Regions from separate parts of the Homo sapiens genome. Here region 2 is linked to region 1. The links come from fine-mapping of genetic effects on gene expression. Tissue or cell type: Th17 cells. Region 1 holds a variant in brackets; the other region holds the start of a gene. All regions are shown on one strand. Distances are from middle to middle.

Evidence for each region. PIP is the estimated chance that this variant, and not a neighbour inherited with it, causes the effect.
Region 2: ACSF2 starts here. The variant in region 1 is fine-mapped to the expression of ACSF2 in Th17 cells (Schmiedel 2018, PIP 0.95).

Annotation. Positions count from the first base shown.
Region 1 is chr17:50,452,818-50,455,317 of GRCh38, reverse strand. All of the region lies in intron 1 of ACSF2 (acyl-CoA synthetase family member 2), which reads right to left. Among named protein-coding and RNA genes, the nearest start is that of CHAD, 15 kb to the left of the region's middle. The variant AT/T (reference allele first, on the strand shown) is at 1,148.
Region 2 is chr17:50,425,154-50,427,653 of GRCh38, reverse strand. It overlaps ACSF2 (acyl-CoA synthetase family member 2), which reads right to left and starts at 1,436. Exons shown (of 16, transcript NM_025149.6): 1 at 1,265-1,436. The coding sequence starts at 1,392. RefSeq lists a silencer at 1,304-1,623 and an enhancer at 1,360-1,904.

The sequences.
Region 1 (2,500 bases):
AAGCTCACCTTCCCCACCTATAAAGTCTGGGAACTGGCCAGGAATGATGAATCACACCTGTAATCCCAGCACTTTGGGAGGCCGAGGTGGGTGGATCACCTGAGGTCAGGAGTTTGAGACCAGCCAGGCCAACATGGTGAAACCCCATCTCTACTAAAAATACAAAAATAAAACAGGCGTGGTGGTGCACGCCTGTAGTCCCAGCTACCCGGGAGGCTGAGGCAGGAAAATCTCTTGAATCCGGGAGGCGGAGGTTGCAGTGAGCCAAGATGGTGCCACTGCACACTCCAGCCGGACGGCAGGTGTTCAGCCTCACAACAAGCATCCTCCTATTCTCACAATGACCAGGAGTCCCATTTAGTTTGGAACTTGGTTTTCCATTATTCACCATGGTTTTCAGACCAAACAGTGGTCTCCTGGAAATTCTAATTGGGAAATCGGCAGGCTGATTTATGGGGGAAAAAAAAAAATCCAGTTCAATTGGCATATGTGTTTTCTCCTGTGTCTTCACAGCGGCTCTGACAGGTGGTGTGACAGAAACCCCAATAGGTCCTTCTTCTCTCATGACACACCCTCAGACATCTAGCTGGCCACGTTGTGTGGAATAAAGACCAGGTTTCCAAGCTTCCCCGGCAGCCGATCTGGCCAGATGGTGAGGTCCTGGCCAGTGGGGTTTAAAGAGAGATAGTGTGTGCAACTTCAGAGAAGAAACTTTCAGAGGAAGGGACATCTTCTCTTTTTTTTCTTCCTCAGGCTGGAATGCTGCTTGTGACGGGAAAAGAATGGTAGCATTTTGGACCACATAGTGATTTGGGGCACCACAGAGCAACAAGAGAGGAGCCTGACGCCTGGACAGCAGGAGCTACCACACCAGTCACAGACTGGCTGTCTCCCAGATAAAGAAACTCCCATCTCCTTTCTTTTTTCTTTTTTTTGCTTTTGAAAATTAAATTATTTATTTTGGGATATTTGTAGATTGATATGCAGATGTAAGAAATGATATTCAGGCCAGGTACGGTGGCTCATGCCTGTAATCCCAGCACTTTGGAAGGCCAAGGCAGGGGAATTGCTCAAGCCCAGGAGTTTGAGACCAGCCTGGGTGACAGAGCAAGACCCTGTCTCTAAAAAAAAAAAAAAAAAAAAAAAA[AT/T]TTGGGACGGTCTTACTCTGTCGCTCAGGCTTGAGTGCAGTGGTGTAGTCATGGCTCACTGACTGCAGCCTGGACCTCCCGGGCTCATGTGATTCTCCCACCTCAGCCTCCTGTGTAGCTGGGACTACAAGTGTATGACCCCATGGTTGGCTATTTTTTTGTATGTTTTGTAGAGATGGGGTTTTGCCATGTTGCCCAGGCTGGCAATTTTTTTTTTTTTAAATTAGCTAGGCATAGTAGCATGCACCTGTACTCCTAGCTACTTGGGACGCTGAGGCAGGAAGATCTCTTGAGCCTAGTAGTTCAAGGTTGATTACACCCACTGCACTCCAGCCTGGGCAACAGAGCAAGAGCCTGTCTCAGAAACAACAACAACAACAACAACAACAGCACACACACACACACACAAACCCAAAACAACAACCACAAAAAACTACAAAAAAGAAACAATACAGAAATAGCTCATGCATTCTTCAGCATCAATATTCAAATTTTCCCAATGTTAACATCTTGCAAAACTATAGTACAATATTATAGCCAGGATATTGATATTGATAATAGTCAAGACACACAACCATTCCCTTGCCCCCATCTTCTTTCAGTCACTCTCAGTTTGGGTTTCTTTGAGACACACTAATATAATCCTAGAAAAATGCAGGTGAGGCCGAGCGCGGTGGCTCACGCCTGTAACCCCAACATTTTGGGAGGCTGAGGTGGGTGGATCATCTGAGGTCAGGAGTTTGAGACCAGCCTGGCCAACATGGTGCAACCCCGTCTCTACTAAAAATACAAAAAATTAGCTGGGTGTGGTGGTGTGTGCCTGTAATCCCAGCTACTCAGGAAGCCAAGGCAGGAGAAGCTTGAATCCAAGAGGTAGAGGTTGCAGTGAGCCGAGATTGTGTCACTGCACTCCAGCCTGGCCCACAGAGTGAAACTCCGTCCCAAATTTTAAAAAAATGTTTAAAAAAATGCAGGTGAGTATCATGAACTCCCATTCCACAGGTAAAGAAGCTGAAGTACAAAGAGATCAAGTGGATCACGTGGCGGATGAACACCCGAGCCAGGAGCAGAGGACCCGGTGCAACTGCCTCAACGTTACAGCCATGCCTGCCCATGCCCCACCCTCAGATCTGGGAGAAAGGAGAGGGCATAGGTGATTCCTGTTCCTTCTGGTTTGGAATTTATCTCCTATCTGATCATCAGAGATAATATAACCTCAATTTTATTATTCCACAATTTCTACTAACTGATCCCAAGAAACTGGGACCAGGGTAGGGCAGGGTTGAGTTGGAAACAGGTGGCTCTTCCAAGGAATTAAAAGAGTTCTACAAACTCATATCAATGCAATGTGC
Region 2 (2,500 bases), 28 kb after region 1:
AAATATGTACACTTTGGGAAGTAACTTTCCTCAGAGTCCTCCCAGCCTGAGGGGGCAGCCATGAGTCCAGAGGAGAGGCTTAAGAGACTAGGGGGTCAGGGGAGGGCCGAACTTGTCTAGGGAGACCCTGGGAAGTAGTGAGTGACTTCCCAGGGTCACTGGGAAGAGGACCCCACTGTCCTCATCTCAATCCCATCTACTGACCAGCCTTGATCCACTTAGTTTTCTCAGCAAATTAGGCAGAGTGATGTTAAGGCATTGCATGCTTTCTAGCATTCAGAAATCAGCAAGTTCAGAAAGTGTGATCTTGGAGTTCTAGCCAAAAAGGAGTCTGCATGTCCCTCCAACTCTTCCTACTTAGCCTTTTTAAAAACAAAAACAAATCTAGTTCTCTGAGACACAGCTTTGTTCTGACTTCTCCCTTTTCCATGTCCAGGCCCACACCCCATCTGATGTTGCTGAAAGTGCTGTCCTGACCATAGACTTAGTATCTGGCCGAGTTGAGTGGTAGGACAGGCTCAGTAGTGCACAGGGCTCCCCAGTGGTGCTGCTGAAGCTAACAGCCCTGATAACATGAGTGGCAGCCTGCTCTCTGTGTCTCAAGCACTTTCACATTTGCCATCTCACGGGGTCCTCCCAAGGACTGGTCACACCGGGAAGGCAGCTTTACTTACTGTGCTGCTGCAGAGGCAGTGAAGCTACTGGGAACTGAAATCCTCTGCCTGCCAGCTTCCATCCCACCCCTTGCACTGAGGACAGAAGGAAATAGGCCCAGGAGTAGGCAGCAAAGAATTAAAGCCATGTTAGTGAGCAGCTGATGAGGAGACAGGAGACTGCTAAGTTTAGTGGCCTGGGTCGGGGAGACTGGGGCTGATCCCCAAGTTTGCCCATGAAGGGGTTCCAACTCAGAGGCAGTGTCCTGGGGGTACAGCCCAGGCCTTGGCCCTTGCCCCTCCCCATCGGAATATTCTCCTTAAAGCCCACACTCCTTGCCCTCTGTGCCCATAAAGGAGAAGGAATCGAGAGTCTTGGACCAGAACTCGAAGTCACTGCAGCCACCAACCAAAGCCCCCTCCCCACCCAAGTCCACCAGGCCAAGCCAGCTTTTCCTATTGCCTAGGTGCTGGCGGGGGGCGGGGGAGGGGCGGGTACCTTCCCCCCAGTGCACTCGTCCAGAGGTGGGGCTTCCGAAGCTCGCCGGGACCTCCAAGTTCCTCTCCCGGGGAACTGCCCCGCCCCCTCTCTTCCCGCGGGGGGCCAGTACCTGAGGAAGCGGACACCCTGCAACCTGGCTTCCTGCCAACTCCGAGAGAGGGCGGCCCGGGCCCCCAGCACCCCCGAGCTCCCGGCGCACAGCCTCCCCAGGCGCAGCATCCCGACGTAGACAGCCATGGCTCGCTTTGCCCTGCGTCCCGGCCCGAGTAAACTTTTAAAGTGAGCCGGGGCGGGGCGGGCGCGCAGCGGGCGGGGAGGCGGGGAGGGTGGCCTCTGCCTATGGGGTGCGGCGGATTCGGTCTCCGCCGGCGGGGCGGGGCGGGGCGCGGCGGCGGCGACTTCGCGCGGGGCCACCTTCCCCTCCGACCCCGCGGCCCTCCCCCTCCCACCCTCGAAGAATAGCCCTGGTTTCCTCTGGATCCGAAGGCCCCAGCTGCAGTCCGAAACAGATCTTCCTCGCGACCATCCTCAGGGGCCTGGATGTTAGAAGCGCAAAAATTTGTTGATTTCCTAGAGGGAGAGCCAGCAGCACATCCGTGAGGGGCCAGATGGCAAGGTCAAGATCCATCCATCCCCTGCCCCCTCGGGTCACGTGCTGGCCCCGCTACTTGCGAGCCGGGGGCCAAAGGAGCAGGCGCGAAGCGTCCTTGAGGCATGCCAGCTGGAGCAGAGGGCCCCGCGGGGTTGGGGAGGCAGCCAGAACAAAGGGTGTCGCGGGTGAGCCCCCTGCGGGCCCGCTGGCGCCAGAGTCCCAGCTGAGGCCAGATGTCAGCTTCAGAAGGAACACCAGTTGTACCCCATCTCACAGGAGGCATCCTCCCATCCCTCCTCGGCGCCTCTGCCTTGACCTTCTGCACAGGGTTGGGGGCCGGACACGTAAGGTGGCCTCAGGGACTGGGACCTGTGTATTTCATCCTCCATCTGCCTGTCTTGGGGCCTGTGGCACAGTTCCCTGTGCTGCCCCAGGTGTGAATGGAAAGCAACCCTATGCCCCTCCTTAGGGTTCCTGAGGCCCAGGGGTGAGTGGGGTACTAAGACCTGGGCAGAGCTGCGGGACAGAGAAGGTGATAGCTCTGGTCCTGGCTAGGAAAAGTGGCACTGGGCACCAAAGAGTAGCACAGTTTATACCTGTTCCAGGTCCACACTGCCTCGGCCTAGCCATGACTCTTCCTCTAGAGAAGGAGCTGGAGAAGAATGGGGCAAAGGCCCTGGCAGTGTGACCTCCCCTCTCCTGACTGGAGGAGATGAAGTAAACCCTGCCAGGCAGAAGGGGTGGCTGAGAGTG